Linked DNA regions of Homo sapiens: all the other regions are linked to region 3. Evidence: fine-mapped expression QTL. A gene starts in region 3. Each other region holds a variant in brackets. All regions are shown on one strand. Distances are between the middles of the regions.

What was found. PIP is the estimated chance that this variant, and not a neighbour inherited with it, causes the effect. A credible set is the group of variants that fine-mapping cannot tell apart.
Region 1: its variant is the best candidate, but not a certain one, in a credible set for the expression of NUCB1 in whole blood (INTERVAL, PIP 0.72).
Region 2: its variant is the best candidate, but not a certain one, in a credible set for the expression of NUCB1 in whole blood (TOPMed, PIP 0.64).

Annotation. Positions count from the first base shown.
Region 1 is chr19:48,919,051-48,923,180 of GRCh38, reverse strand. NUCB1 (nucleobindin 1) reads right to left here. Exons shown (of 13, transcript NM_006184.6): 9 at 4,059-4,130; 10 at 3,895-3,987; 11 at 1,857-2,027; 12 at 1,249-1,354; 13 at 1-863. The coding sequence ends at 757. Among named protein-coding and RNA genes, the nearest start is that of NUCB1-AS1, 2.2 kb to the right of the region's middle. RefSeq lists enhancers at 1-445, 3,592-4,091. The variant G/A (reference allele first, on the strand shown) is at 2,084.
Region 2 is chr19:48,876,897-48,881,042 of GRCh38, reverse strand. TULP2 (TUB like protein 2) reads left to right here. Exons shown (of 13, transcript NM_003323.3): 13 at 1-76. The coding sequence ends at 32. Among named protein-coding and RNA genes, the nearest start is that of PPP1R15A, 6.5 kb to the right of the region's middle. RefSeq lists enhancers at 793-1,505, 4,057-4,146 and cis regulatory regions at 1,946-2,558, 2,115-3,075. The variant A/G (reference allele first, on the strand shown) is at 1,863.
Region 3 is chr19:48,898,619-48,902,618 of GRCh38, reverse strand. NUCB1 (nucleobindin 1) reads right to left here and starts at 2,307. Exons shown (of 13, transcript NM_006184.6): 1 at 2,247-2,307; 2 at 1,688-1,833. The coding sequence starts at 1,822. It overlaps TULP2 (TUB like protein 2), which reads left to right and starts at 3,875. Exons shown (of 13, transcript NM_003323.3): 1 at 3,875-4,000. RefSeq lists a cis regulatory region at 3,131-4,000 and an enhancer at 3,665-4,000.

The DNA of each region.
Region 1 (4,130 bases), 20 kb before region 3:
GGGTGGGACTGGTCTTCAGGGGCTCCAGATGAGGCTGAGGGGCTGGGCCTAGGTCCTGGAGTGGGGTCAGCTCTGGGACCCTTCTGGGGCTGTGTGGGGAAGGGGCTGGGGGCCAAGAGGTCCAGGAGGAGGCTGGCGATGAGATGGCTGGAAGCCAGGGGTTCAGGGAGGCCCAGGCTCCTGGTATCAGGGTTCACCGGCTATACTGAGGATCCCCTGCCCCTGGCACCCAGCTGTGGAGGGGACACTGTCTTTGAGGCATCACTGGTTCCACAAAAGGTAGGGGAAGGTCTTGAGGGACCACCCCATGCCCTCATTAATCAACCAGAAGCTTGGCCCGGAGCAGCAGCGGGGATTCCAGTAGCTGTGGGCATACAGGATGCTAGGGCGGCCACAACCCAGGCAGCTGAGGCCGAGCCACCTAGGAACGCAGGCTCAGAGCAGACCCTCTTGGGACAGACGGAGAAGGGGAGGGGGCGGGCTTCTCTAAGTTAAGCCGATCACTGAGCACCTCACTGGACACGAGAGAAGGCAAGCCCCTCGGAGGACAGAAGGGAAGAGCCACAGACTTGGAGGCTGTGAAAGTGGAGACAGGTGGACCTGGGGTGGCAGCAATGCGTGAAATGCCAGGCCGTGCCCCCGCCCCAGGAGCCCAACATGACACCAGCCCCCAGGGAAGCTGACTGTGCCACTTCATCCAGCGCCCATCAGTCGCCTTGGAGCATCAGGAATCCTGAGGGCTGGGGTCCCGGAGGATCACAGATGCTGGGGCACCTCAACCTCAGGGAGCCGCTCGAGAAGTTTCTTTTCTGAAGTGTCCACCTCCTTCTGGTCACCGGCTGGAGCTGGGACAGGTACATCGTCTGGAAATGGAGGGAGGGAATGGTGGCACAGGACATCCGAACCCCTCCTCCCCCAGGACCCCAGAGGCCCAGCCCCTCCTCCCTCACACCCAGGGGTCCAGCCCCCAGCCCCTCCTCCCTCACACCCAGGGGTCCAGCCCCCAGCCCCTCCTCACTCACACCCAGGGGTCCCAGCCCCTCCTCCCTCACACCCAGGGGTCCCAGCCCCCAGCCCCTCCTCCCTCAGACCCAGGAGTCCGGACCCCCAGTCCCTCTTCCCTCAGATCTGGGAGTCTGGGCCCCCAGTCCCTCTTCCCTCAGATCTGGGAGTCCAGGCCCAGCCCCTCCAACCTCAGACCCAGGGGTCCAGCCCTGCAGCCCCTCCTCCCTGGACTAGGGCCAGCACCTGTGTCTGGGTGGAACTTGAGCTGCCCCTCAGGGTGGGCAGCCGGGGCCTTGTGGCCTTGCTGCTGCTGCTGCTGCTGCTTCCGCTGCTCCATGTGCAGCACAGCCTGTGGGAGGTGGGGGGTCACACAGACAAGAGGGTGTGATGCTGGCATTGCAAGTGCTCAGGCCTCAGTCCCCAAACGGAGACTTCACAGCAGCCTGCTAAGTGGTCACGGCCAACCCCTTCTCCGTGGGCCTCAGTTTCTCTCTTTCATTGACAGTCGGGCTTAATAATAGTCAAGGATCCAGTTCTCCCTCCAGTCACAGCTTGGGTCTTGCTTTGGGACAGGGAAACCCTCACCCATCCCTGGCTGAGTCTGCCTTTCTCCCCCTCCTGGGCCTTTCCCTCCTCACTTACAGCCTTAATGCCCTTATCTCACATGGCAGCCACAGAGCCGTCAGAGACGGGAAAACGTCTGCCCTTACTCAAGATGGCGGTGAATACTTGAGGCTCCCCCAGTGATTAACATGGTGGCCACAGGCCTTCCCAGCTTCTGGACACCCATGGGGACACGGACACGGGCAGCCAGAGATTCAGTGGATGGAAGCAGCTTCCCCCGCTGTCACCTGCTGCAGCTCTCTCTTCTGGGCCTCCAGGCGGCCCTGGGACCGCCCTAGAGCCTCTGTCTCCTGGCTGAGGCGCTGGGCCTTGGCATTCAGCTCTGCCTCCCGGGCAGCCAGCTCCTCTTCAAAGCGCCTCAGCTCTTCCTCGGTGTAGGCAGGGTGCATCTCCACTGTCTGCAGGGCAGGCACAGGGGCCATCAGGGGCACAGGTCCAACCTCGGCCCACCCAT[G/A]TTGGAGAGGGTTGTGCCAATGGGGGAGGTGTAGAGGAGGCTGGGAGGCCAGGGCCATGTGGGTGGGCAAAGAAGCCCAAGTGGGAGGTGGGAGTGGGATAAAGACCGAGAGACAAGGCCGGGCACCATGGCTCCCACCTGTAATCCCAGGACTTTGGGAGGCGAAAGTGGGAAGGATCACTTGACGCCAGGAGTTCAAGGTCAGCCTGGGCAACGGAGCGAGACCCTGTCTCTACAGAAAATTGGCTGGGCATCTTGAAAAATATATAGAAATAGGCCAGGCACCATGGCTCACACCTGTAATCCCAGCACTTTCGGAGGCCGAGGTGGGTGGCTCACCTGAGGTCAGTAGTTTGAGATGAGCCTGACCAACATGGAGAAACCCCGTCTCTACTAAAAATACAAAATGAGCAGGGCATGGTGGTACATGCATATAATCCCAGCTACTCAGGAGGCTGAGGCAGGAGAATTGCTTGAACCTGGGAGGTGGAGGTTGCAATGAGCTGAGAATGCACCATTGCACTACAGCCTGGGCAACAAGAGCAAAACTCTGTATTGAAAAATAAACAAACAAATAAATAAATAAATAAAACAGAGACCTAGATTAGCTGGGCATGGTGGTATGTGCCTGTAGTCCCAGTTACTCAGGAGGCTAAGGAAGGAGGATCACCTGAGCCCAGGAATTCAAGGCTGCAGTGAACTATGATTACACCACTGCACTCCAGCCTGGGTGACAGGAGACCCTGTCTCAAAAAATATTAATAAATAAATAAAAGAATGAGCTAGATTAGCTAGGCATGCTGGCATGTGCCTGTAGTCCCAGCTAATAGGGAGGCTCAGGCAGGAGGATCACTTGAGGACAGGAGTTTGAGGCTGCAGTGGGCCATGATAACACCCCTGCACTCCAGCCTGGGTAATCCCAGCACTTTGGGAGGCTGAGAAGGGTGGATAGCTTGAGTCCAGGAGTTTCAGAGCAGCCTGGCCAACATGCAAAACCCTGTCTCTACCAAAAAATACAAAAATTAGCTAGGTGTGGTGCGGTGGTGCATGCCTGTAATCCCACCACTTAGGGAGGCCAGGTCAGGTGGATCGCTTGAGTCCAGCAGTTCTAGAGCAGCCTGGCCGATATGGCAAAACCCCATCTCTACAAAAAATACAAAAATTAGCCAGGCATGGTGGCTCACGCCTGTAATCCCAGCTACTCATGAGGCTGAGATGGGAGGATCGCTTGAATCCAAGAGGCGGAGGTTGCAGTGAGCCGAGATCCCACCACTGGGCTCCAGCCTACGCGACAGAGCAAGACCCTGTTTCAGAAAAAAAAAAAAAAAAAAAAAAATCACACCTCTAATCCCAGCACTTTGGGAGGCCAAGGTGGGTGGATAACCTGAGGTCAGGAGTTTGAGACCAGCCTGGCCAACATGGTGAAATCCTGCCTCTACTAAAAATACAAAAATCAGCTGGGTGTGGTGGCACGCACCTATAATCCCAGCTACTCAAGAGGATGAGCCAGGAGAATTGCTTGAACCTGGGAGGTGGAGGCTGCAGTGAGCCGAGATCGTGCCACTGCACTGCAGCCTGGGCGATGGAGTGAGACTCCGTCTCAGAATAAATAAATAAATAAATAAATAAATAAATAAATAAATAAGAGTCCTAGAGACAGGGGAAAACAGAGACCCAGAGATAGAGATGCAGTGACCCAGGAGAATGGACGGGGACCCAGAGAGAAAGAGAAGGGGCCTAAGATTCTGAAAGAAAGGTCATGGCTAGAAGAGAGAGAGGTTCAGGACCCCGAGTATCCCCCATGTTCTCACCTCCCAGCCCTCCCCGGTGTCCCCAAACTCCTTCCTCTGAGTGGATGCGAGGAACTCCTCCAGGGTCACGAGGCGGTCCTGGTTGGTGTCCACCTGGGGAGCCAGATAAGGGTGAGTGACAGAGCTGGGGGCCCGTCCTCTCCCCCGCCTGGCCCCCACCTCACATTCTTCATCACATGCTCCCGCATGCGCAGTCGCTCCTCCTCCATCTCCCGCATGTCGTCCTCCTCATTCTT
Region 2 (4,146 bases), 22 kb after region 3:
CCTTCAGCATCTGCTTGTCCAGTTTCAATTAGAAGCTGGCTGTTGAATAACTCAATAAAATACCATACCCTTGCCAGCTTCTGTGCCTCCTCATTTGGAGGAAGGGCCCCGACATGCCTTCTTTTGCACCACCTTAATAACCAACACTGACCGGGCAAGGTGGCTCACGCCTGTAATCCCAACACTTTGGCAGGCTGAAGCTGGTGCATCACCTGAAGTCAGGAGATCGAGACCAGCCTGGCCAACATGTGAAACCCCGTCTCTACTAAAAGTACAAAAATTAGCTGGGCGTGGTGGCAGGCACCTGTAATCCCAGCTATTCAGGAGACTGAGGCAGAAGAAACACTTGAATCTGGGAGGCGGAGGCTGCAGTGAGCTGAGATAGCTCCACTTCACTCCAGCTAGACTCTGTCTCAAAAAAAAAAAAAAAAAAAAAATGCCGGGCGCGGTGGCTCACACCTGGAATCCCAACACTTTAGGAGGTCGAGGCGGAAGGATCACTTGAGGTCAGGAGTTCGAGACCAGCCTCGCCGATATGGCAAACCCCGTCTCTACTAAAAATACAAAAATTAGCTGGGCATGGTGGCGCATGCCTGTAATCCCAGCTACTCCGGTGGCCGAGGCACGAGAATTGCTTGAATCTGGGAAGCGGAGGTTGCAGTGACCCGATCGTGCCACTGCACTCCAGCCTGGGCAACAGAATGCGACTCTATCCCCCCACCAAAAAAAGGAATTTTCACACTACATCTGAAGAATCAGGAGCAACTAGCTGAGCAAGAGGCCTCAGGGTTGGGATCCTCAGGCAGCAGGTAGCACTCATACAAAGGTTTTTAATTAGGTGGAATTAGGCTTGGTTGCCTTGGGGAAATGAAAGGATTATATGGCAGGAGTGGGGGTCTCAAACTCCTGACCTCGAGTTAGAGATCAGCCTGACCAACAAGGTGAAACCCCGTCTCTACTAAAAATACAAAAATTAGCCCTGTGTGGTGGCGGGCCCCTATAATCCCAACTATTCAGGAGACTGAGGCAGGAGAATCACTTGAACTCGGGAGGCGGAGGTTGCAGGGAGCCAAGATCCTGCCATTGCACTCCAGCCTGGGCGACAGAGCAAGACTCTGCCTCAAAATAAACAAACAAAACAAACAAACAAACAAAAACCTGACCTCAAGTGATCCATCTACCTCGGCCACCCAAAGTGCTAGGATTTCTAGTTTAACTAAGCTGCTTTTGTAAAGCTAATGAAAGGCCATTAGGTTAGGAGGATGAGAGGAGCCTGCATTCTGTGAAGGTCTAGAGGTAGATTAATACAAAAATTAGCCCTGCGTGGTAGCGCACGCATATAATCCCAGGTACTAGGGAGGCCGAGGCAGGAGAATTGCTTGAACCCAGGGGGTTGTAGTGAGCCGAGATCACGCCACTGCACTCCAGCCTGGGTGACACAGAGAGACTCGGTCTCAAAAAAAAAAAAAAAAATTAAAAATTAGAGGTAGAGGTGGGCATAGTGGCTCATGCCCATAATCCCAGCATTTTGGGAGACTGAGGTGGGCGGATCATGAGGTCAGGAGTCTCAAACTCCTGACCACCAACATGGTGAAACTCCTTCTCTACTAAAAATACAAAACTTAGCTGGGCGTGATGGCTCACGCCTGTAATCCCAACTGCTCAGGAGGCTGAGGCAGGAGAATCGCTTGAACCCAGGAGGCGGAGGTTGCTGGTGTGCTGAGATCGTGCCATTGCACTCCAGCCTGTGTAACAAGAGTGAAACTCCATAAAAAAAAAAAAAATTAGCTGGAAGTGGTGGCGCACACCTGTAGTCCCAGCTTCTTGGGAGGCTGATCCAGGAGAATTGTTTTAACCTGGGA[A/G]GTGGAGGTTGCAGTGAGCCGAGAGCCCACCACTGCACCCCAGCCTGGGCAGCAGAGTGAGACTCCGTATCAGGAAAAAAAAAAAAAAAAAAAAAAGAATAACGGTATATAGAATAATTACCGTATTATAGCATTTATTTCATGAGCATTGTTTTAACTCCTTTGGGGCCTTACAATCCCATAAGATATGTACAATTGTTAGTCAGCTTACAGATAAGGAAACTAGGCCTATGGACACAGGGCTTATAAATGTAAAATCAGGCTGCAACAGCAATCATACAGGGTGGTTGCAGGAGATTAGAAAATTCCAGGCAGCAGTTTCACAAGACCAGACCAGCAACAGGAAACTTGAAATAGCTACAGAAGCTATGGGCTGATAAGATCCTGAAAAACCAGGGCGTGGGCCAAGTAGGCTAAGTCCGACTAGACCCAATATGGCACTGGGTCTGACCTCGGTTTCACGTAGGACCTCATTATATGTTCATCAACACAGTCACACACCCACCAGCATCATGACGGTCCCAGGAACACCCATATTTGGTGTAAAGATGGGTGGCACCACAGTTCTGAGAAATCTCCATCTTTTTCCAGGAATGCTCATGAGTATTTTACCCCTTGGTTAAAAAAATCCAAAAAGGGCCAGCGTGGTGGCTCACGTCTGTAATCCCAGCACTTTGAGAGGCTGAGGCAGGTGGATCACTTGAGGTCAGGACTTTGAGACCAGCCTGGCCAACATGGAGAAACCCTGTCTCTACTAAAAATACAAAAAATTAGCCAGGTGTGGTGGCGCCTGCAGTCCCAGCTGCTTGGGAAGCTAAGGTAGGAGAATTGTTTGAACCCAGGAGGTGGAGGTTGCAGTGAGCTGAGATCGTGTCACTACACTCCAGCCTGGGCTGGACAGAACAAGACTCCATCTTTAAAAAACAAACAAACAAACAAAAAACCCATAACGGTAGCAGCCTCAACCCCCCTTGCACGTGATTCTCTCGAGTCCCCTTTCATGAGTGTGGACTTTCCCCTTTGCAATAAATCCTGTATTTTCACTCTTTTCCAACTCGTCCTTGAATTCATTTTCATGACTGTGTCAAGAGCCTGAACACTGGCTGAGGGGGAGGTCCCACCCGGGCTTGGGGACCTCGATACCCACTGGTATCAAAGCAACGGAGGAGAATGTAAAGGCCTGTAGAGATTGAGCCTTAATGGTCCAGCAAGGCACAGACAATTCTGCCTCCTTTTAGGGATCCGTGACTCAATTCTCCAGCTCCCTTGGGGGGGTGGTGATAATTGTCCCAAGTTTAATACAATTTAGGCAGATGTCAAAGAAAAACTACAGGCCGGGTCTGGGTGCGGTGGCTCACGCCTGTAATCCCAGCACTTTGGGAGGCCAAGGCGGGTGGATCATGAGGTCAGGAGTTCGAGACCAGCCTGATCAACGTAGTGAAACCCCGTCTCTACTAAAAATACAAAAATTAGCCAGGCATGGTGGAGTGTGCCTGTAATCCCAGCTACTCAGGAGACTAAGACAGGAGAATCGCTTGAACCCAGGAGGCGGAGGTTGCAGTAAGCAGAGATCGTGCCACCGCATTCCAGCCTGGGTGACACAGCGAGACTCCATCTCAAACAAACAAACAAAAATACATAGGCCGGGTGCATTGGCTCACGCCTGTTATCTCAGCATTTTGGGAGGCCAAGGCAGGTGGATCACAAGGTCAGGAGTTTGAGACCAGCCTGGCCAACATAGTGAAACCCTGTCTCTACTAAAAATACAAAAATTAGCCAGGCGTGGTGGCGCACACCTCTAGTCCCAGCTACTCGGGAGGCTGAAGCAGGAGAATCACTTGAACCTGGGAGGCAGAGGTTGTGGTGAGCTGAGATTGCACCACTGCACTTCAGCCTGGGCAACAGAGCGAGACTCAGTCTCAAAAAAAGCAACAAAAAAAACTATAAAACCCACCAGCTGTTATGTGGGCGGCAAGACACCCAGGTGCCGAGGCAAGAGACCGAGGACATGAGCTGTTCCAGTATAATAAAATATAAAACAAGAATAATTATACCAGATATAGATCTTAGATATGATTATATATGAATATCATTAATCATTAGTTTGTAGCAATTACTCTTTATCCCAATATTATAATAATCCTCGCTCTATAATCATAACCTAGGAAAAACCAGGCCATACAGAGATAGGAGCTGAGGAGACATAGTGAGAAGTGACCACAAGACAAGAGTGCGAGGCTTCTGTTATGCCCGGACAGGGCCAGCAGAAGGGCTCCTTGGTCTA
Region 3 (4,000 bases):
GGGCAGTATAATGACACCCTGTCTCTATCAAAAATACAAAAAAAATTAGCTAGGCATGGTGGCACATGCCTGCAGTCCCAGCTACTCCAGAGGCTGAGGCAGGAGGATCGCTTGAGTCTGGGAGATGGAGATTGCAGTGATTGCACCACTGCACTCCAGCTTGGGTGACACAGCAAAAATAAAAAAAAAAAAAAAAAAGAAAAAGGAAAAGAAAAAATGAGGTGGCTCATGCCTGTAATCCCACCACTTTGGGAGGCCGAGGCAGGCAGATCAAGAGGTCAAGAGATCGAGACCATCCTGGCCAACATGGTGAAACTCCGTCTCTACTAAAAATACAAAAATTAGATGGGCGTGGTGGTGTGCGCCTGTAGTCCCAGCTACTCGGGAGGCTGAGGCAGGAGAATCACCTGAACCTGGGAGGCAGAGGTTGCAGTGAGCCAAGATTGCACCACTGCACTCCAGCCTGGTGACAGAGCGAGAAAGAAAGAAAGAACTCAACTCACGCCTCCCTTCCTCCCTGACTGTCACCCCTGGTGTTCACTCTCATAGAGCCCTGCCCTTTGTCTTCCATCTCCCAGTGAGCAGGGATAGTCCATGGGCATGGGGCATGCACATGGCTGGGCCCTAACAACTATGCAACACATAGGCAACACTATGCCCGGCTCATAGAAGGTGCTCAGGAAACATGTGGAATGGAAGAAAAGAAATGGGACTCAACAAAGCCTTCCTGGGTCTGCAAGGATTTCACAGAATAGAGGCCTAACTTGCAGCGTGGGGACCAGGAACATGCAATGATCCGTTCCAGGGGGTAATGACTAGCCCATTCTTTGTTTTTTGAGACAGTCTCAGAAAACAGAGTCTCAGCTCTGTTGCCCAGGCTGGAGTGCAATGGCGTGACCTTGGCTCACTGCAACCTCCACCTCTCTTGGTTCCAGCACGAGAATTCGTGCCTCAGCCTCCCAGAGTAGCTGGGATTATAGGCGTGAGCCACCACGCCCAGCTAATTTCTGCATTTTTGGTAGAGATGGGGTTTTGCCATGTTGGCCAGGCTGGTCTTGAACTCCTGACCTCAAGTGATCCGCCTGTCTCGGCCTCCCAAAGTGCTAGGATTACAGGCATGAGCCACTGCGCCTGGCCTGACCAGCCTATCCTTATGGGGAGCTATAGGAAGATTCGGACCACAAGACACTCACTGACCTTCAGGATCTCCAAAGTTCCAAATCCCTTAAGACCAAAGCTTTTATTGGGTTTGATAAACACATGTAGGAATTAATAAACAAGCAGTTCACCCGCCCTTCTGTAATTTAAACTACAACTCCCAAGAGCACCATGAAGTCAGAATACCCCAGCTAGCCAACATCAACTGCTACTGGGAACTAGCAACATGGTGCTACTGGGAAATGTAGTTTTGTTTGTTTGTTTTCAAATTCCTTCTTGGGTGGAGAGAATCTTAAAAAAACAGACGTTTAGTTGGGGCGTGATGCAGATTTTCCACACCTCAGAGTCAGGGACCTCCAGTTTTTCACCAAGTCAAACCCCTGCTGCTGGGAGGAATGGTGGGCAAAAAACAAGCTACAACTGTAGGGCCAGGAAGTCACTGGAGCATCCGCCCTACGGGCACCGGGGTCTGCAGGAGCTGTAGTACCACTGCAAACACCTGGCTGGATAGCAGGGCAGGGCCACTCACGGGACTCTCAGTCGCAGGGGTCTCCTCCTTGTTGGGCGCCCCTCGCTCCAGGGGGACAGCCAGCACGGCGCGAAGCAGGAGCAGCAGCAGCAGCGGCAACAGAAGGAGGGTTCCTCGGGGCCCAGAGGGAGGCATGGCAGTGTGGTCTGTGGGGGATGGAGGGCTGGATAATGCATAATGTCTGTCCCAAGCCTCTTCCTCCCCTGGAACCAGGAGTTCGGGCCCCCAGCGCCGCCCCCACTTCCAAGAATCAAGACACAAGCATTTTGTTACCCAGGCCCCAGGATTCCAGGCCTCCGGCCTTCCCTTCCTCCGACACAGGAGTCTGGGCCCTCAGACCCAGGGGTCCTGGCTCCCAACACGCTCCTCTCTCACACTCAGGAATCCGGGATCTCGGCCGCCTCCTCCCCCAGACCCAAGAGTCCAGGGTCCCAGCCTCCTCTTTTCCCAGGACCTAAAGTACTGGCACCCAGTGCATCCTCCTCCGGGACCCAGTTTTCCAGCCCTCTGGCCCCCATCCTCCCTAGGACCCAAGAGTATGGGAACCCTGGCCTCTCACCTCTCCTTCACCGCAGAGGGCGTTTTCCAGGGCGGGCAAGGACCTCCGGTGCGTTCTTGGTGACTTCCCCCCTAGACCACGCCCACTTATCCACAGAGGCCCCGCCCCAAAGAGGTCTGATTGGTCCACGCTGGCTCTGTAGCTTTCATCCACGTCCAGCGGCCCCGCCCCTTGCCGAAGCCGCTCGCATTTTCGTGAAAGCCTCGCTTCTTTCTCGGAATCCCAGCCTCTTGACGCCACATTTCCCGCCTATGCCAAAAGAGAGAGAAGGCTTTCAAAGATAACTACAACTCCCTGCCGGCCGGGGGAAAAATAACTTCCGCGGGCATCGTGGCCCCTTCGCCTCATGGGAGCTGTAGTTTTCCCATTTATTTTCGCCCCACGAAGTGCCTGGAAGTTATAGCGCGGTAGCAATTGCATAGCCTTTCTTATGAGTTTCTTTCTTCTTCTTCTTATTATTCGAGACAGGGTTTGCTCTGTCACCCAGGTTGGAGTGCAGTGGCGCAATCACTTCTCACTGCAGCCTCTACCTCCCAGGCCCAAGCAATCCTCCCGCGTCAGCCTCCCAAGTAGATGGGACCACAGGCCACACTACCATGCCTGGCTAATGTATATTTTTTAAATTTTTAATACAAATATTTAAATCTTTAATTCTTTTTTAGCCTTTTTTTTTTTTTAACGTTCTGTCTTTCACACTTCTCACACTTTGTTGTTGTTGTTTTTTAAAGAGACGGATGTCAAGCCGGGCTTGGGGGTTCACTCCTGTAATCCCAGCACTTTGGGAGGCTGAGGCAGGCAGATCACCTGAGGTCAAGGGTTTGAGACCAGCCTGGCCAACATGGAGAAACCTCGCCTCCACTAAAAATACAAATTAGCCAGGCGTGGTTGCGCATGCCTGTAATCCCAGCTACTCAGGAAGCTGAGGCAGGACAATCTCTTAAACCCGGGAGGCGGAGGTTGCAGTGAGCCGAGATCGCGCCACTGCACTCCAGCCTGGGCGACAGAGTGAGACTACGTCTCAAAAAAAAAAAAAAATCTCTGTGTTGCTGGTCTGGATCTGGATCTCCTGGACTCAAGCAATCTTGCCTCCCCGTCTCCGCCTCCCAAAGTGCTGGGATTACAGGCGTGAGCCACTGCGCCCCGCCTCTTTTAAGTTTCTTGTAAGCGAGATGTGTACAGTGAGGCCGCGAGGTCTCTGGTCTCCCGCTCTCTCTCTCTCTTTTTTTTTTTTTTTTTGAGACGGTGTCTACCTCTGTCACACAGGCTGGAGTGCAGTGGCGCGATCTCAGCTCACTGCGAGCTCCGCCTCCCGGGTTCACGCCATTCTCCTGCCTCAGCCTCCCGAGTAGCTGGGACTACAGGCGCCCGCCCGCCACAACGCCCGGCTAATTTTTTTGTGTATATATATATATTTTTTTTTAGTAGAGACGGGGATTCACCATGTTAGCCAGGATGGTCTAGATCTCCTGACCCCGTGATCCGCCCGCCTCGGCCTCCCAAAGTGCTGGGATTACAGGCGTGAGCCACCGCGCCGGGCCGGTCTCTGGTCTCTTTAAGGAACCCCCACACGGCATTCGTGTTCAGAACCCCCGGAGCAGGGTTGCCTGGCTGCATCAGTGACCGAGTTCGTTACTTTGTTGGAAGTGGAGAGTGGAGGGTCAGAAGGGAGTGGACCAGTTCAGGTCCCAGAGGGAATCCTCCCTCCCTCTGAGCCGTCTTTCTTCTCCTCCCTATTTCGCAGATATCCCGAGATT